Homo sapiens: one gene and its partners. The protein of the gene in region 2 interacts with the protein of the main gene of each other region in a pairwise test. Each region holds a gene or a part of one and is shown on either strand. Other genes may lie near its edges.

Region 1 (7,022 bases), about 21 Mb from region 2:
ATGGAGGGTCTTGCCCAGCATCTTTTAAAAGCTCCTCAGGTGGTTCATTATCAAAGAGCAACAGCTCAGATTTCTTGAACACTCGCTGCTAGGCAAACACTAAACTCAGTCATTTACGTGCACTCTCACCACATTTCCTCACTGAAGCCTTGTCACCACCCCAGAGGAAGCAGGCACCACTTCCTGACTGGTTCTGAAGCATGACCCTGGTTAAGAACCACTGCCTGGCATAGAGCAAGCATTCCAAACACGTCTGCTGAGTGAATGGATACAGAATCTGGGTAATTCTCAATGCAGGAAAATGAGGAGTTGTTTCGAGGATTAAAAAAAAACACATGGGTTAGTGAATTAAATTCTTGGATTATAAAAAACAGAGGCAAACAGAAAAACGATGGCATTAACAGCCAAATCTAAGGCTGGTTCCTCTTAAGCACCAGCCAAATAGAAAAACCTCTGATAAATCGAGTAAGAAGAAATTTTTAAAAGATGAACTTAAAGATAGGAGGATAAGGCTGGGCACAGTGGCTCATGCCTGTAATCCCAGCACTTTGGGAGGCCGAGGCGGGCGAATCACCTGAGGTCGGGAGTTCGAGACCAGCCTGACCAACATGGAGAAACCCCATCTCTACTAAAAATACAAAATTAGCCGGGTGTGGAGGTGCATGCCTGTAATCCCAGCTACTCAGGAGGCTGAGGCAGGAGAATTGCTTGAACCTGGGAAGCGGAGGTAGCGGTGAGCCGAGATTGCGCCATTGCACTCCAGCCTGGGCAATAAGAGCGAAACTCCGTCTCAATAAAAAAAAAAAAAAAAAAAAAAAAAAAAAAGGAGGATAAACAGAACAGTGAAATATACACACTAGTGTGTTAAGAAATGCAAAAAATCTTAACAAAAAACTTTTAAATTCTAAACTACCAATGTTTACACAAAAAAGCAGAAACCTTTATAATTGAGGAGGAAATAGAGAAAATTGTTGCCAAAACATCTTGTCTATAAAAATCCTGAGTCTAAATGTTTTATAGGTAAATTCTTTCAAAAGACAGAAAAAGGTGAAAAGCAATCTGAATGTTTCTACAAATTAAGGATAAGCATGACACCAAAACCCATCCAAGAGAGTGCTTTCTCTCTGGTGGCTATTTCCCTTAGTAATACAGATATTAAAAAATGATCAACTGGGCCGGACACGGTGGCTCACACCTGTAATCCCAGCACTTTGGGAGGCTGAGGCAGGTGGATCACTTGAGGTCAGAAGTTCGAGACCAGCCTGACCGACATGGTGAAACTCCATCTCTACTAAAAAATCAAAACTAGCCAGACATGGTGGTACACGCCTGTAATCCCAGCTACTTGGAAGACTGAGGCAGGAGAATCGCTTGAACCCAGGAGGCAGAGGTTGCAGTGAGCTGAGATTGCCCTCTAGCCTGGGCAACAAGAGCAAAACTCTGTCTCAAAAAAAAAAAAAAAAGAGAGATCAACTGTATTTTGAAAAACTTATGTATTACAACCAAGTGGAATTTTATCCCAGCATTATGTATAATAGTAAAAATTTCAGAAACAACCTAAATGTTCTCTGAGAAATGGCTAAATAAATTTTGGTACATTCATACAAAGCAATATAATATAGTCATTAAAACTGATTTTAAACAACAACAAAAATAATCCTCATAAAATTTATATGAAATTTAAAATACATTGTAATTAAAAATGTTTAAGGGGAAAAATATGCATAAGGAGAAAAGAAAATTCACCAAAACAAATACAGAGGTCCTAAGGAAGAGGGATCATAAATGACTTTTTTCTATTAAAAAGTCTAGATTATTAAGCAAGTAATACCCAGAATATATAGAGAACTCCTAAAAATCCAACAAAAAACAATTCAAAAATGTGCCAGGAACTTGAATAAACATTTCTCCAAAGAAGATACACAAAGATGTTCAAGAACACTAATTATTAGAGAAATGCAAATCAAAACTACAATGAGATATCACCTCACACTGGTTAGGATGGCTACTATCAAGATAAAACAGAAAATAACAAGGGTTGGGGGGATGTGGATAAATTAGAACCCTTTGTGCACTGTTAAGAATGTAAAAAGATACAGCTGCTATGGAAACAGTATGGTGGTTCCGGAAAAAAATTACCGTATGACCCCGCAATTTCTCTCTGGGTATATAACCAAAAGAATTTAAAGTCAGGTCTCAAAGAGATATCTGTACCCCCACGTTCAATAGTTCAATGCCTCATGTTCATGTTCAGTGCCATAGCAGCATTATTCACAATAGCTAAACATGTAAACAAAGCAAGTGTCTATCAATGGATGAATGGATAAGCAAAATGGAATTGTATTTAGCCTTAGAAAGGCTTTTATTTTAAAGCACTGTATTCAGCCTTTAAAAGAAAGTTCTGATATATGCTACGACTTAGATGAATCTTGAAGACATTATAATAAGTGAAATAAGCCAGCCACAAAAAGATATACTGTGTGATTTTGGCCAGACGTGGTGGCTCACGCCTCTAATCCCAGCACTTTGGGAGGCTGAGGTGGGCAGATCACTTGAGGTCTGGAGTTCGAGACCAGCCTGGCCAACATGATGAATCCCTGGCTCTACTAAAAACACAAAAATTAGCTGGGCGTGGTGGCGCATGCCTGTAGTCCCAGTTCTCAGGAGGCTGAGACAGAACCGCCTGAACCCAGGAGGCTGAGGATGCAGTGAGCCGAGATTGCACCACTCACTCCAGCCTGGGTGACAGAGCAAGAATCCGTCTTAATAAAAAACAAAACAAAACAAAACATACTGTTTGATTCCACTTATATGAGATAGAGTAGTTAAAATCATAGAGATAGAAAGCAGAATGGTAGTTGCACGGGCTGAAAGAAGAAAGAATGAAAAGTTATTGTTTAATGGATTGTAGAGTTTTCAGTTTTACAAGATGAAGAATTTTGAAGATGGGTAGTGGTGATGGCTGCATTACATATGAATGTATTTAATACCACTGAACTGTACACTTAAGATTGTCTTATGTGTATTTTATCAAAATTTATAAAAACTGACAAAGATTATATCAAAGGTAAAAAGTCTCTAATATTATATATGCTCACATACTTTAATAAAATATACTTTGTTTTGAGTCAGAGTCTTGCTGTGTCGCCCAGGCTGGAGTGCAATGGTGCAATCTCAGCTCACTGCAACCTCCACCTCCCGGGCTCAAGCAATTCTCATGTCTCAGCCTCCCAAGTAGCTGGGATTACAGGCGTGTGCCTCCACACCTGGCTAATTTTTGTATTTTTAGTAGAGATGGGGTTTCACTATGTGGCCCAGGTTGGTTTCGAACTCCTGGGCTCATGCAATTCGCCTGTCTCGGCCTCCCAAAGTGCTGGGATTACAGGTGTGAGCCACTGTACCCGGCCATAAGATATACTTTAACAAAAGTAATACAACACGGAAAAGTAAGGAAAAGAATCTTATTTTTGAAACAGTTATTTTTTGAGACGGAGTCTCGCTCAGTCACCTAGGTTGGAGTGCAGTGGCGTGATCTCTGCTCACTAAAAGCTCCGCCTCCCAGGTTCATGCCATTCTTCTGCCTCAGCCTCCCGAGTAGCTGGGACTACAGGCACCGGCCACCATGCCTGGCTAATTTTTTTGTATTTTTATTAGAGACGGGGTTTCACCATGTTAGCCAGGATGGTCTCGATCTCCTGACCTCGTGATCCACCTGCCTCGGCCTCCCAAAGTGCTGGGATTACAGGCGTGAGCCACTGCGCCTGGCTTGAAACAGTTCTTAGAGGAACAGGTTTTGACATCCTAACATCCTAAAGACAAATTTTTTAAAAACTGTTCAGTGCAAATCACATTGTTTCATGTAATCATTTTATCAGAAAATAAAATAGGCTCATTGTGACTGGAAAATATAATTTGTGCTATATTAGTAGCAGAAAGTATAAAATTGCTGCTTGGGCTTAAGTGATTCTGAATGATCATGTTACCTCGTGTTTAGTCTGGGCAAGGGGTTGAAGGGAGGGGTCAAATGGCCTTACTCTGAAAGAGTACAAAACCTGGTACAGAGAAGGCTGGGTAAATGCACCACTCCATTCCATGTAAGAATATTATAATAGGAGTGCATGGGCCGGGCGCGGTGGCTCATGCCTGTAATCCCAGCACTTTGGGCGGCCGAGGCGGGCGGATCATGAGGTCAGGAGATCGAAACCATCCTGGATAACATGACGAAACCCCATCTCTACTAAAAATACAAAAAATTAGCTGGGCATGGTGGCACGTGCCTGTAGTCCCAGCTACTCTGGAGGCTGAGGCGGGAGAATCGCTTGAACCCGGGAGGCGGAGGTTGTAGTGAGCCGAAATCACGCCACTGCACTTCAGCGCAACAGAATGAGACTCCATCTCAAAAAAAAAAAAAAAAAAAAAAAAAAAAAAAAAAAAAGGTGTTCACAGGTGCTATGGGCACACACAGGAGCGGTACCTAACGTTACACGGGAAGGTGCAATCTCAGCTGAGACTTAGAGACCACCTCCTGTCAGCTCAGGCTGAAGCTGAGAAGGGGAACCTCTGGACAGAGGGAGCTCGGACATCCTTGACTACAAACATCCTGACCTGATTCAGCAAGTGGTCTGGTTTCCCCTGGTGGCCCCAGAAGCATCTTGTCTAAGTTTGGGTGACCTAAGCCAGGTTTTGCTGGGTCTGTTCACCCTGATGATCTAACCAGAGCTTCTGTAATCCAGAGTCAACAGAGACCAGGCCCTGACCCCTCCTCCCCATTTCCTCTCTATCAAGGAAATCTCTTCTCTAACATGAAGAGATCTGGTTCTCCATATGAAGCATTTTCCTTATAAAACTTCCCTCATTTCTCTTTTCTGTTTTTTTGTTTGTTTGTTTTGAGATGGGATGTCTCTCTGCTGCCCAGGCTGGAGTGCAGTAGTGCAATCATAGCTCACTGTAGCCTCAAACTCCTGAGCTTAAGTGATCCTCTCACCTCAGCCTCCCAAGTGGCTGGGACTATAGGTGTGTGTGCCACCACACCTAGCTTAAAACTTCTCTCATTTCTTACTGCTCTGGTGGCTTCAACTTTAAGAATGGCAAATGCCTTTTTTGTTTCCTAACTAAAAATGTAGTACACATGTTATGAAAAAGAGGCCAGCCAGTGTGGTGGCTCACACCTGTAATCCCAGCATTTTGGGAGGCCAAGGTGGGTGGATCACTTGAGGTCAGGAGTTCAAGACCAGTCTGGCCAACATAGTGAAACCCCATCTCTAGTAAAAATACAAAAAATTAGCCGGGCGTGGTGGTGCACACCTGTAATCCCAGCTACTTGGGAGGCTGAGGCAGGAGAATTGCTTGAACCTGGGAGGCAGAGGTTGCAGCGAGACAACATTGCACACTGCACACTGATAGAGCAAGACTCTACCTCGAAAAAAAAAAAAAAAAGGGCAGGCCAGACACAGTGGCTCACGCCTATAATCCCAGCACTTTGGGAGGCTGAGACAGGCAGATCATGAGGTCAGGAGATCGAGACCATCCTGGTCAACATGGTGAAACCCTGTCTGTACCAAAAATACAAAAATTAGCTGGGCGTGGTGACACATGCCTGTAATCCCAGCTACTCGGGAGACTGAGGCAGGAAAATAGCTTGAATCAGGGAGGCAGAGGTTGCGGTGAGCCAAGATCACGCCACTGCACTCTAGCCTGGCGACAGAGCAAGACTCTGTCTCAAAAAAAAAAAAAGAAAAAAAGGCAAATAAGGATGTATAATGTTTACATAGACATTGCTACTAACAATCCTATAAATACACAGCTATATCTACGTAAACATTCTAAATGGGTATCCCGGCTCCTCCATCTCTGCTCCTAGTCCCATCCCGCTTCAGGTGGAGCCAGTTCAGGAATTTGTTAACTATGTTCAGGGGAAAGGTCCCACTCATCAAAACACCTCTCTAAAGGAACTATTATCAAATATAATATCAAACTTTTTATCCTAGGATTCATCATTCATGGCAATCTTTTAAAAAATCTATGAAGTTGTATTAGTTCCCTGCCCCAAATCACCAGCTCAAGCTACACTGGCCTCTTTGCTGCTCCTTGAATACACCAGACATACATCTTGCCGCTAGGCTGTTCCCTCTGCCCAGAGCACTCTTCCCCTACACATCTACTCCCTCATCGCCTTCAAGTCTGCTCAGGTGTCACCATCTCAATAAGGATAAGGCTTACCCTGACCACATCATTTTAAATTGCACCCCGACTACAAACCTCCCACCTCCCCACTCAGACCCCCTTACCTTTCTCTACCTTTTTTCCCTCTTGAGATACTACTGCCTTCTAGGATACCATACAATTTATTTATTTACTGAATTCTTCTGTCTGTCCTCTCTAGAATGTAAGCTCCTTGAGAGCAGGGTCCTAATTTTGTTCACTGAAGTTATCCCAACTGCCTAGAAAAGTGCCTGACACATCATAGGGCTCAATGACTACCTGGTGAATGAGTAGATGAATGAATGATGAATGAACGAGTTACAAGGCCAAAAAGAACAAGTCCAAACTCCTTCTATTCTCCTCTACCCACTGCCAGCAGCCCACAGCTGGTGTTACAAAGAAAATGCTTTAATGAACATGCACCGCCATCTTCTTGCCTCCCAACTCCCGATTCACCAAATCAATCAGCTCTACCCTCTCCCTTTTGTTTTTTGGGGTTGGTTTTTTTGAGATGGAGTCTCACTCTGTCACCCAGGCTGGAGTGCAGTGGCAGGATCTCGGTTCACTGCAACCTCCACCTCCCAGGTTCAAGCGATTCTCCTGCCTCAGCCTCCCTAGTAGCTGGGACTACAGGCGCCCGTCACCATGGCTAGCTAATTTTTGTATTTTTAGTGGAAACAGGGTTTCACCATGTTGGCCAGGCTGGTCTCGAACTCCTGACCTCAAGTGATCCGCTTGCCTCCGCCTCCCAAAGTGCTGGGATTACAGTCCCCTTTTGTTTTCACCTGCTTAGACTCTGCTCCTATTCAAAGGTGAAAACT
Region 2 (7,557 bases):
GGAGGTGAGCGGGGCACGGGAGGAGGTGAGCGGGGCACGGGAGGAGGTGAGCGGGGACGGGAGGAGGTGAGCGGGGACGGGAGGAGGTGAGTGGGTACAGGCGGTCCGGGGGCCGGGGAGGTGGTCCAGGGGCCCAGGGCCACTGCTGGTCAGCAGGCTTGGCAGTCAGAAAGAAGAGAGGACCCAGGAGTGGGGACAGTGGGACCAGGAGCCCAAGTCCTGGGGACTCTGGGATGGCTGGTGCCTGAGTCTGAGCACAGAGGGGTCCTGGCTCAGGAGGGCCAAAGGGGGTGAGGAAGAGCCAGTCCCGGACGGTGTCCCCAGCGTGCAGTCCTGGGCAGGGACCCTGACCCCTGGGTCTCACTGCACAGGGGCTGTGAAGTCTGGGCCCCTCCACAGTAAGTGCTCCTGAGGGTCTGCTGGGAACATTCTGGGCAAGGGCAGCAAAGCCATCAAGCCACGCCGGGGGCTGGACGGGCGAAGGAAGGCGTGAGGGCTGGGTTCTGAGCGGGGTTCCAGTTCCACCCCAGGGCCTGGACGGGCCGAGGAAGGTGTGAGCGCTGGCTTCTGAGCTGGGTTCTGGGTTCCAGCTCCACCCCTGCTGTGTGGTCTCAGCCACCACAACGCCCTCTCTGAGCCATGTCTCCCGCCAGCAGTGGTGTCTCCTGCTGGGCAGAGATGCTGGGGGCTGGGATGGTCTGCTCCTGGCTGCATGCAGACAAGGGGCAGGAGGGATGGCGGCCCGGGGCTGCACGCGAGAACGCGCCTGGAGGAGAAGGGAGTCTCGAAGAAGGGGGTCTCATCCACACCCAGAAGACGGTGTTGGGGGAAGGAAGTGGAGGAAGGGGACCCCCTGGTTGGAACATATGTTGCCCTGGGGTGGCCTGTGTCTGCGCTTGTGTGTCTTGGGTGCCTGGCGTGTCTGCGTGTGGGCTGTCTCTCCATGAGTACGTGCACGTGTCTGCGGTATTTGGCACACGTGTGTGGCGTGTGCTCGTGCGTGCCTGCATGTGCTGAGTGTGGTGGAGGAGAAAGTCCCCCTAATCAGTCCCCAGGTCTCTGAGGCTGTAACAAGGTCAGCGAGGAACTGAGACTGGCCAGGTGTGTTGTCTCAGCCAACAGCCGGCGTGGCCGCCTCTGGGCATGGTTGATTTCTCAAATAAGATCAGCATCAGATCCTGCAGGAAGACAATCTGATCCAGACAGGTTGCAGATGTTCTAAGATAAAATAACCTTTCTTTAGGAGGAAAGAAAAGAAGAGGGTAGGTTTGCAACCAGATTAAAAAAAGCAGCACCCATCCGGACACGTGGAGAGCTGTTTCCTGTTAAACAATCCTGTTAGTAACCCCCACCCTCTGCAATTTCTTGTTTTGAGGCAACTTCTGGGACAATCTCTCCACATGAAGGGCAGGTTCGAGGACCCTGCATTCAGGGGTGGGGACCGAGCCCCGGACCGGTCCACTGGAGCACACCAGCTGTGTGCTCAGGACGGCCAGGGAGGAGGCCATGGACTCTGGACCTGGCTCAGGGACAAAGGGCTGTCAGAGTGTGGGGGAGAGCACTGGCTCCAGGGGATGTGCCTCAAGGCAGTAGCAGTGGGCCTGGGGTCTGCCGGGAACCTCTGGAGGCCCTGGACAGGTTTCCCTGCTCCCGGTTGGCCTCGTGGCCAGTGTTACTGAAATGGGAGATGGGGACTCTGTGACTGATGGAGATGACACCCTCGAGGCAGATCCAGGACCAGAGAGCAGCCACCAGAGCTGCGTTTCATTCGCTGATCCGCACTTCATTCATCCGCCTGGAGTTTGTTGTCTTAGACTCTGTGTTGGGACCTGTACTGGTGTTAACTCAGGCCTCGGTGGACTCCTGGTCCAGGGTGGATGAGGTCATGGGCAGCACAGCCCTGGACAGTGGAACTGATGTTGTGGACGTGTGGGCCGGGAGCCCAGGGAGGGATGTTGGGTGGCGGTTCAGACTGGGCTGGGCTTTGCAGGGTAGGTAGGGGTCGGGTGGTGGGAGAGGCTGAGGCAGAGGCACTTGGGCCTGAAAAGTATCTGAGTCCTGGATGCCAGGAAGCCACACAGGGCACTTGGGCACAGATATGTCATTGCTGCTCCTAAAATTGATCATGTGTAAGCCTCTGGATAGCCGTGGGGGTCGGCACTAATCAGAGGGTCTCATAGGTAACCCAGTGATGAGGGGATCCAGGCTAACCATTGAATGCAATATTGTCAATAAGAAAGAAAAAAGCAGGTTACAGAACAGAAACCATCTGCACCAACACCTATGGTGCTCCAACCGTGCCAGGCAGGGTCCCGGGCCTGGGCCGCGTGATGAGCCTGGCGTGGGGTCCCGGGCCTGGCCCGCGTGATGAGCCTGGCGTGCAGATACTGAAGAGTCCTCTCAAGTGTGGGAAGGGCTCTGAGAGTTAGGCACCTTTTTTTTTTTTTTGACAATTAAAAGAAATTTGCACATAAAAAAAAAAACCTGGAGGGTTAGATGTGGGGAGGTGATGGGCTGCTTTGGGGTCTGGAAATTTGTTTTTACTCCCTATCTGCATTGTCTAATATTTCAACAAGGAACACGGTTATTATTCCTGCGTGTATGTGTGTGGATCTCATTTCCTGTGTCTGGCCCTGCAGGGAAAGCTGGGAGGGGGAGCCTTGGAAAGATGGCTCCACATGGCCTGCGGGGTCCTTCCATTGTACCTGGGCCTACTGCGGGCTGATCCCTGAGCAGGGGCAGGCAGCGTCCAGACACCAGTGCCACAGGGGAATCGGCTTTTCCTTCTGTGGTTTCTCTCCATTAGAGCAGGCTGCAGTCAGGGCTGTCAGTCAGGAGACAGCAAGCCGGCCGAGGGCTGTGGCTGGAGATCCCAAATCGCCCTGGGCTTCAGAGACTCAAATTCCCAAACTCTGTGATCTTTCTTGGCTCCCTGCGTCCTTTGCTTGGAAGCCATCTGTTATTTTGCCAGGGTGCCGCTATGTGACAGCCAAGGGCTGAACTGGGGTGTTCCAGGTTTAAGCCGGGTACCCCTCAGACAGCCTGGTGGACCTCAGGCCTCACGCCACACTGCAGACGAGCAAACCTCAGGGCGGTGGTGAGGAGCTTTCGGGTGAGGTCAAGGCAGGAAGCGGAGCTTGGTCTGGGGAAAACTGTCCCAGGGCTGCTGGAACCGAGCGGGAGGCACGGCCTGCAGGAGCTGCCTGGGCGCCCGCACCCTTTGCCTGAATTTCGCATCCTTTTCCCATGGAAGTGGTTGGGGACCGAGGATGTGGCCTCCCGGCAGCCTGGAAGGCTGGGCTGAGGAGGACACAGGGCCGGGAAGGCCCAGACTGGTCCCTAGAGAGCGGGACTGGCCTCTGCCCACTGCGGGCTTCAGGGAGGAGGCGCAGAGGCCGGGGAGACAGCAGATGGGGCCCTGCAGGCCTCGCTGCGCCCTGACCTGTTCCTCGCCTCTTTAGCCAACCTCCCGGGAAGGCAGGAGCCGGTCTCCATGGCCTCTCCCGGCCCTGCCAGCCCCGTGGGGCCTCCCCGCCCTGCAGCCGCGCCCGGCGCCATCCCGCCGTCCGACCGCGAGGGGACGCCGCTGGCCGCGTTCCTCCTCCCAGGCCGAGGCTGCCTGTGCTGCCTCCCGCCGGCGGGGCCCTGAGCCTCCTCGCCCTGTCGGCGGCGGTCCCCTCTGACCGCAGGGTCTTCTTCTAGAGTCCTGATCGCCGAGGCTGAGCGGAGGCGCCCGGTCTTCCCGCCTCTTCAGTCTTAATGTCTCCCTCACCCTCGCCCCCCACCCCCGTGGCTTTTGGCGAGGTCCGTGCCCTATTTTTAGGCAGAAATCGGCAAAAAGAGTGGACTGCGAGGTGGTTTCTGTCCCCGCCGACGCCTCCTCTTCCGCTGCTCCCTCCCCCGGGACCGGTGATGGGGAAGGTGGGGGAGTGAGTTCAGGGCGGAGCGGGCCCACCCCCCACGGAACCCAGGCCTGCCCCGCCCCGCCCCGGCCTCGGGGGACTGGTGTGGACCGTGCCCCGCGGACCCCTCGGAATCAGACCGCGATTCAGCCCTCGGCCCCCCGGGACGGTCCTTCCAGCCCCAGACGAGCGCGGCGCCTGCACACAACAGGCGCCCACTAAATGCTTGTTGATGGAGGTGGCGAGTACCCGAAACCAGCGGAGCCTGGAAATGGGATCCTAGAGATCCGGGAAGGGCGCGGGGATCTGGTGCCAAGCTGGGGTCCCCCTTTTGCCTCCCCTAGTGTCTGCCTGGGTCCGAACCCGGGCTCAGGCCCCGCGCAGCTCGGAGCCTCCAGCCCGGAGCCGGTCCCTGGGCCGGGGATGCGCACAGCCGGGGAGGGCGCGCCCGACCTGACCCCAAAGCTATCAGTTGGGGGGGGGGTCCCCGGGGAATTAGAAGCTGTCTCCTCCCGGGCATCTCCGAGGGGCACCCCTGCCTCTGCCCCCTGCCCTCATTTCCCGCCGCGCCCCTCCCCGGCCCCGCCCCCCGGCCGCGCCCCACCCCCTGCAGTCCCCGCGCGGCGGCCGCCCGAGCCACGTGCGCCCGCGCCCGGCAGGCGTTCAGGGAAGCGCGGCCACGCCTGGGCCGGCCACCATTTCCCGGGCGCCGCGGCGGCGCCGACTCGCGGGCAGCGGCCCCTCAGTGCGCCCAGCCGGGCCCCCGAACGCCGGGAGCATGAGCGCGGGCTCGGAGCGCGGGGCGGCGGCAACCCCCGGGGGTTTGCCCGCGCCCTGCGCCTCGAAGGTGGAGCTGCGGCTCAGCTGCCGGCACCTGCTGGACCGCGACCCGCTCACCAAGTCCGACCCCAGCGTGGCGTTGCTGCAGCAGGCGCAGGGCCAGTGGGTGCAGGTAGGGCCGGGGCGTGGGAGGCCGAGAGGCCACCGGGCCGGGGCTGGCGCCGAGCTGGGGATGCGGAGACCAGAGCGGGCGCGCTGAGGCCAGTGGGGCGCAAGGCGGGGCCCCCCGGAGCTGGGGCTCAGCTCGGGGTCAGGGTTGGGGGTTACCAGGTCTGGGGGTGGGGTGTCCAGAGCTGTGGGGAGAGGCTGGGCTGGAGGAGGTGGCGGCGAGCGGGGTTCGGAGGAGAGAGGGGGGTGCCCCGCAGTGAGGGGTGCGGCCCAGGGTTCGGGGAGGGGGCCCCGGGCCAGAGTGAAGCGCCCAGGCATGAGGCGCGGGCAGGGGGCTCGACCAAGAGGCGCAAGGAGATTGAGGGGTGAGGGGCGCCGGCCGACGGGGGGCGGGAGGCTGGGCGGGAGCAGGCCGGCGAGGGAGCGCGCGCTGGGGTGCGGACCTCCAGGCGTCCGGGGCTCCCGCTCCAACGTGGGTCTCAAGCGAACCCGCTGTGATCGCGGTTGGGGTCCGAAGGGGCACGGGGCCGGCGCCAGACGGGCGCTTCCTCGGTCACCATCTCGCGTGAAACGCGTGGCTTCACCTCGAAAGGGCGAGAAACGCATGGCGCGAAGCCGCAGCGGGCGGAGGAGCCGGAACTCGAACCCCAGTCCGCGCGGGGCGCCAGCGCTTTTCCCCGGCGCAGGGGTCTCTCCAGGCTCCAGCGCGGGCCCGGGCGGCTGCTCGGGCGGTGGAAGGGACGCGGTCACCCGGTGGCGTCTCCGGTCATCCACCTTGAGGGTGAAGGGCCTGCCCCGCCCTCACCGCCTGTCCCCAGGGTTCCGGCTGCCCCCGGAGGCCCCGTGCCCGCCCCTCACAGCCTGAGCCCACCCTTCACATCCCGAGCCCACCATCCCCACGGAGGCCTCGTGCCCGCACCCTCAGAGCGTGAGCTGTACGGGTGGCCCATGTTTGCCCTTGGTTTGAGGTGCAGGATTTTTCAGGATTCTGAAATGAGTAGCCTACTGGCCCAGCTGGGTCTTGTCCTTACGGGGCAGTTGGACCAGGGAACTGCATGGGATGGGAGAGGCTGGTGAGCCCATGGTACCCCAGCCAGGAGGGAGGGCCCCCCTGTACCCTACGCCCCCTCCCCACTCAGCTGGTGCTGGGGAGCGGCCTGCACTTTAGGGCTGCCCAGCCCAGGGTGTGAATCTGATCTCGCCCCCGACTCAGCGTGTCATTCTCGTCCTCTGTGAGCCTCACTTTCCCCATCTGTGATCTGAGGGTGGAGCAGACAGTGGTGGCCAGGGGTGACCCCCAGGGTGGCCCTCGGGATTGTGGTCCCATGGACAGAGAGCAGGCAGGAGGTCTTCCCAGGGTATGAGTCCTCCTGAGGTACCTGGGCGTGGGTGAGCGGCAGAGGGGAGATGGAGGTCTGGAGCCCGGGGTGGAAGCCTCTGGAGTGGGGTCGGCTCACAGGTGCACTTGCAGGTGGGCAGAACCGAGGTGGTCCGGAGCAGCCTGCATCCCGTGTTCTCCAAGGTCTTCACGGTGGACTACTACTTCGAGGAGGTGCAGAGGCTGCGCTTTGAGGTGTACGACACGCATGGGCCCAGCGGCTTCAGCTGTCAGGAGGACGATTTCCTGGGGGGCATGGAGTGCACCCTGGGGCAGGTGGGTGCCCCGTCCCCTCGGAGGGAGGAGGACGGTTGGCGTGGGGGCCACAGCCGATTCAAGGCTGATGTACCAGCACCGCAGGGACCCTGCTGGGGTGGCCAACCTGGCTCTGCCCCCTCCTCAGCTCCTCCTGAACAGTCATTATTAGATTAAAATATACATGTAATTTTGAACTGGGTAATACATTCGTATGTTTTAAAGCCTGAAGGTATAAAAGGCTGTGGAGCGCCTCCATCCTGCCCCATCCAGCTGCTGCCAGGTCCCTGGACATTGTCCAGAGAGAGATTTTCACAGGAGCAAACCAGCCTATCACTTTTCCTCTTTTTTCTTTTTTTTCTTTTTCTTTTTTTTTTTTTTTGAGATGTAGTCTCGCTCTGTCACCCAGGCTGGAGTGCAGTGGCGTGATCTCGGCTCACTGCAACCTCCACCTCCTGGGTTCAAGCGATTCTCCTGCCTCAGCCTCCTGAGTAGCTGGGATTACAGGCACCCGCCACCACGCCCGGCTAATTTTTGTATTTTCAGTAGAGACGGGGTTTCACCATGTTGGTCAGGCTGCTCTTGAAATCCTGACCTCGTGATCCGCCTGCCTTGTCCTCCCAAAGTGCTGGGATTACAGGCGTGAGCCACGGTGCCCAGCCCACTTTTCCTCTTTTTTCAAAAATACACAAATTACGTTCCCTGTTCTGCATCCTGCGTTTTCACTTCCACGACGTGCAGCAGCCCCTCCATATCAGCACCTAAAAGTCTCCTGGTGGCCGGCCGTGGTGGCTCACACCTGTGATCCCAGCACTGTGGGAGGCCGAGGCGGGCAGATCACTTGAGGTCAGGAGTTCGAGACCAGCCTGGCCAACATGCTGAAACCTCATCTCTACAAAAAGTACAATAATTAGCCGGGCATGGTGGCATGTGCCTGTAATCCCAGCTACTCTGGAGGCTGAGGCAGGAGAATCGGTTGAACCCGGGAGGCAGAGGTTGCAGTGAGTGGAGATCTCACCACTGCACTCCAGCCTGAGTGACAGATTGAGACTCTGTCTCAAAAAAAAAAAAAAA
Region 3 (7,022 bases), on a different chromosome or scaffold from region 2:
GGCTCACCGCAACTTCCTCCTCCCGAGTTCAAGCGATTCTCCTGCCTCAGCCTCCCGAGTAGTTAGGATTACAGGTGTGTCCCACCACATCCAGCTAATTTTGTATTTTTAGTAGAGATGGGGTTTCTCCATGTTGGTCAGGCTGGTCTCATACTCCTGACATCTGGTGATCCGCCTGCCTTGGCCTCCCAAAGTGCTGGGATTACAAGCATGGGCCACCGTGCCCGGCCAGCCTTCTGGTTTTTGTAGTCAAGAAAAGGTGATTACCTAAAAGATCTGCCTTTTAGCTGCCCTCCCTTGCACAGACTGGAGCTGACCTTCAGGCTGGAAGCTTTGAATCTTAAATAGTTAATGGAAAATTAAGCAATGAAGCCTCACACAGTGCCATTTTCTGCTTCCACCTGTTGGCTCTCCCCAGAATCTACCTTTTTAGAGCTTTAAAGTCATTTGAAATAGTTTGCCTAGGGTTTATATGAAGTGGTGACAGATATTTGCCTCAGCCTTAGTGGGAGTTGAGGGACTCAGAGGGCAGAGGAGAAGACAGGTGCTATGTAACTTGGATTCTGGAGTGCATGGGCTTGGAATCCCATCTGTTATAGTGAAGGTAAGGAGGACTCTGTGTCCCATAAGGACCAGGGGCATGAATCAAACCCTGTGATTCAGCCAAGGATCTTTTGCAGCACAATGGGATGGACTCCCCAAGCTGCCTAGGATGGGAGAATAGTTTCTCTAGAAGGGTGCCTTTTGACATTGGGAAGTTTGAGAATAGCATATAGAAGTGACAAAGTCAATCAAATCAACTGACAAAGAGCAGAACCCCATAGAAGACATGGAGAAAAGATCATGAGGAGTGGTATCACGGAAGTCAAGGGAGAGAGTATTGAAAAATTGAGTGAGAGGATGGATGCTATGAACAACCACAGTGGGATAAGGTTGAGAAGCAGCGGTTGGGTCTGGAAAACAAGGTGATGCTTGGAGTATCCAGGAGTGAGGGGAATCAGATCTGATGGGTGGGACATGAGGAGAGGAAGGCAAGTCTGTACTTGTAGACAACACTTTCTGGAAGACAGAAGGGAAAACTGGAGGAGAATGGAGCTCAGTGAGGATAGTGTCTTGTTTTACTCTTTACCTTTAAAGATGGGAGGTAACACTCAATGGAGAAAGGAGGCAGTAGGGAGGAAGAGAGAAAAGCATGGCCTAGGAGATGGTCTGCAGATGAGATTCCCGAGAAAGAGGGCAGGGGTGAGAGAGGTTGGCTTTGGCCAAGAGGAGGAACTCCTTTTAAGATGGATTCCATTTTAATATAATTGATTACTTGGACACACTAATATATCTTCAAGTTTGCATAAATAAACATTAAAAACAGGTTTAAAAAAAGTGTTGCATGGCCCTTTGTCATGGTGAAAATCTTCATTTCCCACTGCCAGGCTCAGGACCCTAGCTCACTGTTACGTTATTTCCTCTTTCCTTTTGTCAGAGAGTTGTCAAACACCTTTCTTCAGCTTTGCTAAATGATTTGAAGTCAAGTTGTTATGACTTCCCCAGCAGGACCACTCCAACTTTTTACTTAACTCTGAGTTTAACTCTTGGCCTTCCCTACTCTATAACTTTTATAGCTACTTACCTAAAAGAAACTTACTTCTCTGACCAGTTTCTTTTTCTTGGTTCATGTCACATGTGCACAGAGACTGGGAAATGTACCACAGAAAGAGAGGGGAGATCCAGTGTTCTTAAAAAGAAAAGCTAGTTAATTGGAGCAATTCTGGGGAGACTAAAATATAGACTTTTCTTTTACGTGAATTTAAAGGCTGTAAGATTATGTGTGATTGGGGACATGCAGTTATGTTGCGGTTAATGACAGGTTTCAGTGAATGTTCTCAACATAAAAACATAATGAGGAAACACATAAATTCTGATTAAATTCACTCCTAAGCCACAGTAACTATGTTTGGGTAGGTTATAAAAAAGTCAAACTTTAAAATTTTTCTTCTCTTCAGAAGTAGATACCGCTTCCCCCCACCCCCCATAATCATTTGCCTTAGTTATGGCTGATCAATAAATTAAACCATAGAGGAACACTTACAAAGGAACTTAAATTTTATACTGGAAAAGGCGATTGGCTTTTGTCTTTGGGAAACCAATTTCAGAATAGTCTGTGAACTGGTGAATTTGGTTTTGGGCTTTTGTCTGCTCTTTTCCGGTAGAAGCCGTGGGAGATGCGCAATAAGCGTGCTTTAGTTTTCAAGAGTCTGGCAGCCTTTGAAGGGAGGTTTCTGCGGCATCCCTGAGAGGAAGCTGGTCCTCTTGGTCAGAGTAACTGCAGAAGAGGCTGCTATGGACTCTGTGTGCAGGGTCCCTGAGAGTGGCAGCCTCACAACTGGAAAGCATCCCTAGATGCTCTGAGGTTGGGTGGGCTCAGCACGGCAGCTCAGGCGCCCAGCTTTGTTCCTCACTGCATGCCCTTGGTACCTCCTGATACTCCTTGGAAATGAATAGGGTGTAGGCTTAGGTAGCCATCACTGAGCACAGGCTTTTATAAGGGTTTAGGAATGTGTGGTCTCAGGCTGCCTTGAAACCTGTCCATCCCTTCTGAGAGTGAGGAGAGCTCAACTTCCCTTGGGAGCACTCCCTTTAGAATGTACACTTTCTGACCAAGAGTCCCTTTCCACTCAGCTGGTTTTCAGATGGAGTTTTCTGGGCATTTTCATTTGTCTTTGTAGCCTAAGGACTTACCCTCTTAGTTCCCTGCTACAATTGGTTTAGTGCTGAATAGACACCAGGGTGTAGTACTTGCTCACTGAGAACAGCAGAAGTAGGAGCTGACCCTTGGCTGCTTGTTCAGTCCATTCCCTCCATAAGCCCCGATATGTACAGTCAGCTTCCAGACACTTCAGGCTAACAGCAGGGCCCCTAGGAAGGGAGCCCAGGCTGAATGTCCTATAACTGCCGCTAAGATATATTTTTAAATCTACCCAGAGGGTGTTAGGGGAGTTCAACTGAAGCATCTCCCATTTCCTCCTTAGAGCCCTAGAGAGACTAATTCTCCTGCTTCCTAACTTCCTTCTCCCATCCCACTAAGCATTTTCAGGACCCGGTTCGGGTTTACTGACAATCATGTGTATAATTCACGCAAGACAGGTTACAGTGGAGCGTGTTACCTTTGCTAGTCAAGCATGGCTGAGTAATGCTGCTCCAGATTTTGGCCAGGAAGTGGGTTTTATTGGTGTTTGGGCCTAACGTTTTCCTGTCCGGAAACCTTCCCCTTCCCTTGACAGGGATGTTCTGGCAAGCACCATCAGGAAAAATCTACCTTCCCTTTGTCCAGTTGAATAAATGGGTTCCAGGCAAAAACAGTTTGTTGTGTAAAACAGACACCCTTCAGAGGGAAATGTTAGCATTGAGAGGTGGGAAGTTGCGAGTGCCCTGGAGGGCAACACAAGTCCGAGCTAAGCCCTGGCTCCTTAGGGCGGTTCCTGGTGGGCATTGCAGTGAGCATCTGGGCCTTTTTATCTGGGATGCTTTGGGGAGGGACTGCTTCCTGTTTAGTGAAGACCATTATACTTTTTCGATCCTATTGTTTTGGTACTCCCTGAAACAATGGGGGCGCAGACACCAGATAGCAGAGAAATGAAGGAGTCAGGGTTTCCAGTTATTTCACTGTTTTCCTCTTCTGGGTTTTCTGTAGGCTAAGTAGAGGAAAGAGATAAACATTAGCAGGAGAAGCTTTTGGGAACACAGAGAAGGTGGCAGCGGCACCTGAAAGGAAGATACCTCCGCAGTGAAGGGGTTGGGTGGAAGGAAGGTGGAGAGCGCAGCAGTAGAAACGGTGGCATTGTGGTTGGAGTGCAGGGTTTTCAGGTGGGGTGGGGATCGTGAGAGACAAGGGTGAGTCAGGCAGGAGCCAGGTCCAGAAAGGCTTATAAATTATGCCAGGAAGTTGAATTTTACCTGGAAGAGTTTTAAACTGGGGAAAGCCATCTGATTTCCATTTAGAGAGTTTATTCTGGCCACATTATGGTGATTGAATAGAAGTGGTAGGAATGAAGGAGGAAGCTCAGGTGGCAGGCTGTTAGTGAGAAATTGTCAGGATCTGGACCAAGGGGAAAGAAAAACCAATGAGGTGGAGGGGCACTGGTGGTGATAGACTCTGGGGCCGTGAGGAAAGGAGGTCAAAGATGAATACAGGTGTCTGAGTTGGGTGAGAAGGAATTGATGGTACCCTTCTCAAAAGTGGGAAATAGAGGAGAAACAGTTCGGGGGAGGAGGGAAGGCAGGTAGAGTAGAACAGGACTTCTCAGCAAATGTTTGTAGAGTTGGGTTGAGCAGAAAACATAAGCCTTATCGCAAGCCAAGGACCCCAACAGCATGCACTTGCTTCCTTACAGGAGAGATTTTGGGCCTCACAAAGTGGCACCAGTGAAGGTCCACCAGTATGACCAGTTCGTCCCGAGTGAAGAGAATATGGATTTGCTCACGACGTATAAGAAAGATTACAATCCCTACCCTGTCTGTCGAGTGGACCCCATCAAACCTCGGGACAGTAAATATCCATGTAGCGACAAGATGGAGTGTTTGCCTACTTATAAAGGTGGGAGAGCACAGAGGGGCAGATTGGGGGAAAGACAGGCTGAGCCTGTGTGCGGGCCAGGAAATGTGTTTTATGTGCATACTCAGTTAGTGCAAGAGTTGGCAGACTACTTCCTACGGGCCAGATCTGGCCAGCAGCCTGTTTTTGTATAGCTGGAGAGCTAAGAAGAGTTAAGCATTTTTTTTTAATAATTGAAAAACAAATCAAAAGGATATAATTTGAGGACTGTGAAAATGATATAAAATTGAAAATTCAGTGTTCATGTTTTATTGGAACGCAGCCATATTCATTCATTTACGCAGTATCGATGGCTACTTTTTTTTTTAGCATAGTAGCAAAGTTGAGTAGTTGTTGACAGAGACACTACAGTCTGTGAGGCATAAGACACTTAATACCTGGCTCTTATACAAAATATCTGCCAACCCCTGCCTTAGCTTGCAGTTTGAATCCTATATTGGGGGAAGCATTTCAAGTTCAGGCTAAGTTAGTTTCTACCACTGATTAAGTGATTGATTCATTCACATGTTTAAAAAATATATCAAAATGTAACATACATATGGAAAAGTATACAAATTATAATTATAGAGATCAATAAATTTGCACTGAACAAATCCATATAAACAGTACCCAGATCAAGAGATAAAACATTACTACTCCATTTCTGTTACCCTCCCCAATGAGAATATAACCATTATTTTAACCTTTAATACTTTAAATTAGTTTCGCCAGTTTTGAACTTTATATAAATAGGATTGCTTCTTTCTTTATTGAGTATCTATTGATATTACCTATGAGGTGTGGTCCTAGAAACTGAAGGAAGCATAATGGCCTGCCCTTGACTTTCTAGCCTAGTGGAGAGACAAGATACGTGGTCATATGTGTTTTGCTAGCAGACAGCCACTCTATGGAGCTCAGCTGCAAAGACTGAGACCATGAGACTGGAGACCAGGTTTGTAATCAATAACTCATGCTTATGATACCAACCTTTGCCTTGCCCTAGGAGGACAAGCTGAACAGTTCACGGACCTCTAAATGCTGTGAATAGAGAGGGCCACTTTTATTTAGTCAAGCCAAGCATTTAGGGTGAAGAGGGTGGTGGAGGTAGGGAGGTTGGAGGGATGTGAGCTCCTAGAAGGGCCTCTAATTCTGTCATCCTGGAGGACCCTGTGCTTAGTTGAGTTTCTCTGATTCTTCCAGGAACTGAAGACTGGATTGGCGTGGGCCTCTTCAGCAACCTGGGCTCTGCCCTTTTATTTTCTTTAGCTTCTTCCTCTAACACTCCCCCATAGATAGCTACCTTTGGTCAAGCCACCTTTTATCAGCAGTACAAGAACTGACTAATATTCTGAATGTTATCATACCCTGAAATGGCCCCACCTCTGAAGTCTTTGTGCACATCGGCATCCTGTCCTCTGGGCTTGTCCTCTTATCTCCTCCCACCACGACAGTCCTTGGCCTTTTTGGGACCTCCAGTCCATTGACGTCTTAATCCTCCCTCTTACCACCAGCCGCTCCTGTGTCTGTCCCTCCCCATGGAGTCTCTACTTCATGGCCTATCTTTGGAGCCCAGCTCCTACTGATAGCCGAGAGTCCCTCTCTCTTCAGCCCTTTTGCTGTTTCCTCCTAGCAAAGCCCTAATCCTGTTTTCCCCATGTCTACACCTGGGCACACACCTGAGCATATCTCCAGTCTTGTCAGCTTTTACTCATTTTCCACAGAAAGGGAGCAGAGCAGTCTTCTATACATGGCAATCTGATCTGACCACTCCTTTGTATAAAACTCCTCAGATAATCATTTGATAAAATCATTATTTTGTCTAATCATATCATTTTATCAAACGATAAAATCATTATTTTATCAAATCATATTATTTTATCAAATCATATGATCCTATTACGATAAAAACCCAAACCTTTTCTGCCTCCTCTGATGCCTTGGAAGTCCTGGTGTCTTCTAAGCCCCTCTGCTCCAGCCTCAGGGCCTTCTTTCAGGTCCCTTCCTACATTTCTTTTCTGCTTCAGGGCATTTGTTTAGCACATGTGATGCCTTCTATATAGAATCCTTCTGCTTCCTTAATCTAGCACTTATCCTTTCAGCTAGCAGCTGAAAGATCACATTCTGAGCCCTTCCGCCATGTCAGGCTGGATGCTATATGGGTGCCTTGCACTCCCCTGTCTTATCATGCATTGTGTACTTTTAATGCTTCCTTTAATGGCCAGGCTGTAACCTCCAAGGGGCAGGGATCTGTTTGTCTTTTTCTTTCCCAATTACCCTCTCACAGCAGGCACCACACAGGAGTCCATACAACCAGGTGTATGACCATGGGTAGGGTGTTGGGGGGCACTTTTGCCTCTACTGAATGCATTCTTCTCCTTTTTAATCCAGTGTTTACAAGAAGACCAGAAATAAGGCAGCACAGACATTGAGCTAGTGG
Region 4 (7,452 bases), on a different chromosome or scaffold from region 2:
CTCCCAGGTTCAAGCAATTCTCCTGCCTTAGCCTCCTGAGTAGCTGGGATTACAGGCATGCACCACCATGCCCGGATAATTTTTTGTATTTTTAGTAGAGACGGGGTTTCTCCATGTTGAGGCTGGTCTCGAACTCCTGACCTCAGGTGATCCGCCCGCCTCGGCCTCCCAAAGTGCTGGGATTACAGGCGTGAGCCACCGCGCCCAGCTTTTTTTTCTTTTTTTAAAAACAAACAAACAAACAAACAGAGTTTCGCTCTTGTTGCCCAAACTGGAGTGCAATGGCGTGATCTTGGCTCACTGCAATCTCTGTCTCCCGGGTTCAAGCGATTCCCCTGCCTCAGCCTCCCGAGTAGCTGGGATTATAGGCACATGCCACCATGCCTGGCTAATTTTTTGTATTTTTAGTAGAAACAGAGTTTCACCACATTAGCCAGGCTGGTCTCGGACCCCTGACCTCAGGTGATCCACCTGCCTCAGCCTCCCAAAGTGCTGGGATTATAGGCAAGAGCCACCATGCCCGGCCAACTTTCACTCCTTTCTTTCTTTCTTTCTTTCTTTCTTTCTTTCTTTCTTTCTTTCTTTCTTTCTTTCTTTCTTTCTTTCTTTCTTTCTTTCTCTTTCTTTCTTTCTTTCCTTCCTTCCTTCCTTCCTTCTTTCTTTTCTTTCTTTCTTTCTTGCCTGCTTGCTTTCTTTCCTTCCTTCCTTCCCTCCCTCCCTCCCTCCTTCCTTCCTTCCTTCTTTCTCTCTCTCTTTCTTTCTTTCTTTCCTTCTTTCTTTCTTTCTCTCTTTCTCTCTAGGGTCTCGTCTGTCACCTAGGCTGGAGTACAGTGGCTCGATCATGACTCACTGCAGCCGTGACCTCCTGGGCTTAAGTGATCCTCCCACCTCAGCCTCCTGAGTAGCTGGGACTACAGGCATGCACCACCACACTCAACTAAGTTTTGTATTTTTTGTAGAGATGGGTTTTGCCATTTACCCAGACTGGTCTCAAACTCCTGGGCTCAAGCGATCTGCCAACCTTGGCCTCCTAAAGTGCTGGGATTACAGGCATGAGCCACTGAGCCCAGCCCACTTTTTTTTTTTTTTTTTTTTTTTTTTTTTTGTGAGATGGAGTTTTTCTCCTGTTGCCCAGGCTGGAATGCAATGGTGTGATCTCGGCTCACCACAGTCTCCGCCTCCTGGGTTCAAGCGATTCTCCTGCCTCAGCCTCCTGAGTAGCTGGGATTGCAGGCACGCACCACCATGCCCGGCTAATTTTGTATTTTTAGTAGAGACGGGGTTTCTCCATGTTGGTCAGGCTAGTCTCGAACTCCTGACCTCAAGTGATCTGCCCACCTGGGCCTCCCAACATGCTGCGATTACAGGCATGAGCCACCATGCCCGGCCTCACTTTCTAACGGAATAAATAATTTACTTATTTTAAATAATTTATTGTGCTTACTATTTATTGTCATACTCAGCTAGACTGTCAGCTCCCCAAGGGTAGGGATTTTTGTCTGTTTTTTTCACTGATCTACTCCCAGGGCCCAAAATCTTGTCTACTATATGCTCAACAAATTTTTGTTAAATGAATGACTGTGTCAAACATGGAGAAGTCTCAAAGGAGACAAAAGATGAAGAAGCACCTCAAGAAATACCAATAGGCCCTGTGTGGCTGCAGGGGGATGGGAGTGCTTACCGATGGTGGCAATGATGCTGGTACTGCGAGCAGCCACGGGCTCGGAGTCAATGTCCAGTAGGCAGAGGTGTTCCAGGAAGGTGTCTGCCATAGCAGCTGGCAGCTGCTGCTGCTGGAAGAAGGCAGTGCCCAGCTCCTGGGTCAGTTGGGCCACACTGGCCCGCCGCAGATACCCCGCTGGCCCTGTGGTAGAAGGGGGCTCAGGGACTGCATGTCACCTGCCCTTCCTCCCCATGCCTTCGTCTCTCAGCATACCCTCTGTTCCTTCCCTTCTTATGAGCTGGGCATCATGCATATATTATTTTATTATGTCACAAGGATCCTATAAAGCAGGTACTGTTAAATGTTCTATAATTATCCAATTTTATGGATAAAGAAACAGAGGCTGAGAAACAGGAAATAAATGGTCCAATATTATACAGCTTCTAAGTATGGATCAGCTAGGATTCAAATCTAGGTCTGACTAACTCTAGCCCAAGTTCTTGACCACTCAGTTATACTGACCCCGCACAACCCAGGACCCCCCGACCTGCAGCTACTGATGACCCTCAACCCCACCACCCCTTGATGTCTAGTCCCCAGCAGCCTCACCCTATGCAGACCCAGAATCACCCAGTTCCTGCTCCAAAGGTCTCTGTTTTCTCCCTTCCAACCCCTGGCTACTGGCTGGCTTCCCCACCCCATCCTCTGAGTCTCCCCAGGCTTCTCAAAGCTGCTACAGACACAGAGGTCCCTGTAGCTTGACCCATCCCAGTTCAGAGGAGCCCCCGATTCCAGCCGCACCTTCCATGCCACTGCACACCTCTCTGGGTCTCCCTCTCTGTGGGTCTGCTCCACACTGTTGGGTTGTCAGAGGCATGAGGCCCAGCTGGGCTGGGGATCAGTTCTGCAGACTGGTTAAAGTGTCACCACTGTCTCCTGTTCCATTGGAAGCCCTGTATGCCAGGGGCCAGAGTCCAGGAACCACGGGAGTGCCCCGTGGCTTACATGCTGTGGCTCTGGCCTGCCTATAGGGCCTGGAAAAGACCCAGGCCAGGGTCCATAATTTAACACACGGGAGGCTCTGAAGAACGTACGTTCCTCTCCAAAACCCACCTAGCCAGTGGCTGATGTGGATCATTTATGCCCTCCACCCTGGCTCCTAGTTTTCACCCTCATTTTCCTCCTATGTTCCATGGCTTCTGTCTCCCCTTCTTACCTCCTGGAGCCCCAATCAGGATGGACTTTGCTAAGTCTCTTTGGGACTTAGAGACCCATGACCGAAGCTGCAGGGATGATATGTTCTCCTGGATCGACATGCTTTCAGTGTGGGCCTGGGGCTGCGGGACCATGGAATGAGAGGGAGAGGATGACAAAACTGCTGGTCTTATCTAAGGGAGACAGAGAAGAGAAAAGGGGCACACCCAGTAGGCCACCCTGTCCCCACAGAATCCCTCCCCCAGAACGGCCTGCTCTCTGCCCTCATCTCCTGGCATTTCCTCTCATCCTTTTTTCCTGATAAATTTTCAATCCATTCATACTATCTGGTCATCCACGTGAATAGATATTTTTTTTTTGGCCAGTCATATGGCCCCATTTTCTTTGTACTTTACTGAAGTTAGCTCTAGTGAATCCAGGGAGCAGGGGCTGTAGGGTGGGGCTGGAGCCTGAAGAAAGACAAAAGGGATCACTGTGATAATATGGTGGGGGGAGGGTTACCCAGTTCTGACCACTTTTTTTCTCTGTCTCAACCAAGAAATGCAGAGTGCCTTCACCACTCTGTAACCTGGCCAGCTGCATGTTTTCGCCTACATGTTTGAACCCAAGATGGTACCTTGAACATTCTCAGACACTGATAAACTTGATTAGGTTGTTGCTGGAAACACTGAAAGATCGACTATTTTGCTAAACTTATAGACTCCTACCCCCAGGGAAATTTTCTTTCCTCCCTCCCTTCCTTCCTTTTTTCTTTTTCTTTTTTCTTTTTTTTCTTTTTTTTTTCACAGAGTCTCACTCTGTCGCCCAGGCTGGAGTGCAGTGGCGCAATCTCAGTTCATTGCAACCTCTGCGATCCTCCTGCCTCAGCCTACCGAGTAGCTGGGATTACAGACGTGCACCACCACACCCAGCTAATTTTGTTTTTCTTTTTTCTTTTCTTTTCTTTTTTTTTTTTTTTTTGAGACTGAGTCTGACTCTGTTGCCCAGGTTGGAGTGCAGTGGCGTGATCTTGGCTCACTGCAACTTCTGCCTCCTGGGTTCAAGCGATTATCCTGTCTCAGCCTCCTGAGTAGCTGGGATTACAGGCATGCACCACCACGCCTGGCTAATTTTTGTATTTTTAGTAGAGACGGGGTTTCACCATGTTGGTCAGGCTGGTCTCGAACTCCTGACCTCAGGTGATCTGCCCGCCACAGCTTCCCAAAGTGCTGGGATTACAGGTGTGAGCCACTGTGCCTGGCCTAATTTTTGTATTTTTAGTAAAGATGGGGTTTCACCATGTTGTCCAGGCTGGTCTCCAACTCCTGGCCTCAAGTATCCACCAGCCTCGGCCTCTCAAACTGGTGGGATTACAGGTGTGAGCCATCATGCCCAGCCTTGTTTTCTTTCTTTTTTTTTTAAAGGGTCTCACTCTGTCACCCTGGCTGGAGTGCACTCGTGTGATCATGGCTCACTGTAGCCTTGACTTCCTGGGCTCCAACGATCCTCCCACCTCAGCCTCCCAAGTAGCCAGTACTACAGGTGTGCACCACCATGCCTGGCTACTTTTTAAATTTTTATTTATTAAAAATATTTTTTTCCTTTCTTTCCACAGGTGCTGACTTTTTATTTTTGTAGAGACTGGTGTCACTCTGTTGCCCAGGTTGGTCTTGAACACCTATGCTCAAGTGGTCCTCCTGCCTTGGTCTCCCAAAATGCCAGGATTACAAGTGTGAGCCATAGTACTGGCTTCAAATTTCTTAAACACTCCTATAAACACCATACCCCGAACCCCTCCTTGAGAACATACCTGGGTAGAACACCCTTTGTCCCATTGTCCACAGCAAGGATGTGCAGTAGCTGTTCTGTAGGTAAGTTCCCCTAATGTATGCTTTGGCCTGATTGCCCTGGCATTTAGTGCTTCATTCACTGGAATCCCAACCAGCCCCATCTTGGGATGGTTTGGGGCATCCTTTGTGAGTGCTGCCCTGATGCCACTTTTGGTGTGACACTAGCTGTGGGTTCAGCTGATACTAACTGGTGGGATTCTCTGGAAGGGCTTTGATAGCATCATCATCATCATAGCATTCATTAGTTACCATTTGCCCATTCCCCACTGTCCAATCTTTATCGAGCACCTACGCTGTATCAGGCCCTAAGGACACAGTAGTGAGCAAAACAGACAGGGCCTTTGCCCTCTGTGAGATTTACAGTATAGTGGGGAGACAGACTATCAACAAGTATCAGAGAAATAAATATGTAACTACAAACCTTGCAAGTGCTACTAAGTAGTGGATCAGGGTGCTGGAACACAGAAGCCAGTGGGAGAAGAGAGAGGGTGTATTTTATTTTATTTATTTATTTTTTTGGAAGCGGAGTTTCACTCTTGTCACCTAGGCTGGAGTGCAGTGGCACGATCTCAGCTCACTGCCACCTCTGCCTCCTGGGTTCAAGCAATTCTCATGCCTCAGCTTCCTGAGTAGCTGGGATTACAGGTGCACGCCACCATGCCTGACCTAGAGGATATATTTTAGACAAGATGAGATGGTTGAGGAAGGCCTCTTTGAAGTGATTATTTTGAAGCTGAAATTTGAAGGATGAGAAGGAACCGGTGGGGGCAAATGGAGAAAGGGGTTTTCCATGGCGGCGGGGCGGGGGCAGAAATAATATATGCCAAGGCTCTGAGGAAGAAAAAGCTTGGTGCCAAGGAGACAAAGAGCTGCAATGAGGCTGAGTGCCTGGAGTGCAGGGTCGTGGCCCATAGTGAAGATAGGGGACCTGAGCAGGATCTTGTAATGTGGTGGGTTTACCCAGGGGATGGACATGATCCAACTGATGGTTTAGGTCCCTCCCGCTGCTGGGTAAAGAATAGATGGTAGCCGGGAGCGGTGGCTCACGTCTGTAATCCCAGCACTTTGGGAGGCCAAGGCAGGCGGATCACCTGAGGTCAGGAGTTTGAGACCAGCCTGGCTAACACGGTAAAACCTCGTCTCTACTAAAAACACAAAAAATTAGCCAGGTGTGGTGGTGCGTGCCTGTAATCCCAGCTACTTGGGAGGCTGAGGCAGGAGAATCACTTGAATCCGGGAGGCAGAGGTTGCAGTGAGCCGAGATCATGCCATTGCACACCAGCCTGGGCAACAAGAGCAAAACTGCGTCTCAAAAAAAAAAAAAAAAAAAAAAAAAGAACAGATGGTAGGTACAGGCAGAACTACTGCGGGCTTAGGAAGAATCTAGGTGGTAGGTGATGGACTAGCATGTTGGCAGTGAAGACGAAGAGAGGGGGACGGCTTGGAGATGCATTTTGGAGAAGAGCCAGCAGAGTGGAACGGCAAAACAGCCGTGGAGAGGGCGGCTTCTAGTGTCGAGGAGTCTGGCTTGAGCAGTTGGGTAGATGGTAGCGCCACTAACTGAGACTACGGAAGAAATAGGTTTGAAGTAGGGGGAAATTCAAGCTTTCTGTTTTGACAGGCTAAATTTGAGAAGCCAGTTAATCATTAAAATCCATAGTCAGACAGTTGGAGCTGTTCATCGAGCACACTTCCTGTGTGCTGGAACAGCATTCATGCCTCATGGACACCATCTCCTTTTATCATTGTGACAACCTAGAAAGAAGGTAGGATCAACAGGCTGTTTTACAGATGAGGGAACTGGGCCGTAGCAAGGTGTGTTCCTTTTCCACTCTGCTGTGGGGCCAGGAGGCTGACGGCTTTGCACAGTGGCGTCTGTAGGGTTTGGAGAGTGGCACCCATAGGAGATGAGATGGAGAGGGTGAGGTTGAGCATTTACCTCCCCAGTTGCCATTCTAGGGACCATTCTCTCCCTATCCCTTGGACCTTACAGGGGTAACAAAGCCCACTGTTATTAGATCTGGGGTAATGCACTATCCGTTGTGGTTTACCAACACCCTGCCCATTCCTTTGTATAATCCTGTTATGAAACACCTTCAAATTATCCCATTTAAGAGAATTCTTTATTTCCTGAAGAAACCCTACCGAATACACTTGTCTGATGCAAAAAGTCTTGTCAGGAGTGGAGCTGGGATTCAGGCCCAGATAGTGGAGCTCCAGAGCCCGAGCTGTAACCACTAAGCTCCATGCCTGCCCCTTGGGACTGTTTCAGTGGGTGGGAAAGGGAGAAGTCTCTGACTCTGGAGTTGGAAAAGAAAGAGAGAGATAGTAGAGAGGACTTCCGGAGGGAAATGAGCATGGGGCCTCATCTTTCTGTATATAGAAGACACAACAAATAAAGAGAGACAAAATTTGTACCCACAGAGAATGTGGCAGACTTCAGGGACTGGGGATTCAGGCCTTGTGCTTGTGGTGTTGGCAGAGACATGGGACTTTAAGGATGGTCTGGCATTACTTTGTTTTTGATACAGGGCCTTCCTCTGTAGCCCAGGCTGGAATGCAGTATCATGATCTCTGCTCACTGCAGTCTCAATCTCCTGGGCTCAGGTGATCCTCCCACCTCAACGTCCCAAGGAGTCGGGACTACAGGCACGCACCACAATGCCCAGCTAATTTTTTTTTTTTTTTTTTTGGTATTTTCTGTAGAGATGGAGTTTCACCACGTTGTCCAGGCTGGTGCAGAAC

Evidence for each region.
Region 1: the proteins of CPNE7 (region 2) and ZFP90 interact in binary tests that used the Homo sapiens proteins (3 or more experiments, as listed by UniProt).
Region 3: the proteins of CPNE7 (region 2) and SAXO1 interact in binary tests that used the Homo sapiens proteins (3 or more experiments, as listed by UniProt).
Region 4: the proteins of CPNE7 (region 2) and PKLR interact in binary tests that used the Homo sapiens proteins (3 or more experiments, as listed by UniProt).

The regions. Positions count from the first base shown.
Region 1 is NC_000016.10:68,542,278-68,549,299, reverse strand, and holds part of ZFP90 (zinc finger protein 90 homolog), read right to left. Parts: intron 1-7,022.
Region 2 is NC_000016.10:89,571,218-89,578,774, forward strand, and holds the start of CPNE7 (copine-7), read left to right. Parts: upstream 1-4,540; 5' UTR 4,541-4,680; coding exon 4,681-4,854; intron 4,855-6,309; coding exon of another isoform or gene 6,310-6,321; coding exon 6,322-6,504; intron 6,505-7,557. UniProt on the Homo sapiens protein: Calcium-dependent phospholipid-binding protein that may play a role in calcium-mediated intracellular processes.
Region 3 is NC_000009.12:18,939,203-18,946,224, reverse strand, and holds part of SAXO1 (stabilizer of axonemal microtubules 1), read left to right. Parts: intron 1-4,385; coding exon 4,386-4,588; intron 4,589-7,022. UniProt on the Homo sapiens protein: May play a role in the regulation of cilium length. Stabilizes microtubules at low temperature.
Region 4 is NC_000001.11:155,298,417-155,305,868, forward strand, and holds the start of PKLR (pyruvate kinase PKLR), read right to left. Parts: upstream 3,023-7,452; 5' UTR 2,980-3,022; coding exon 2,880-2,979; intron 2,537-2,879; exon of another isoform or gene 2,472-2,536; coding exon of another isoform or gene 2,465-2,471; intron 1,865-2,464; coding exon 1,682-1,864; intron 1-1,681. UniProt on the Homo sapiens protein: Pyruvate kinase that catalyzes the conversion of phosphoenolpyruvate to pyruvate with the synthesis of ATP, and which plays a key role in glycolysis.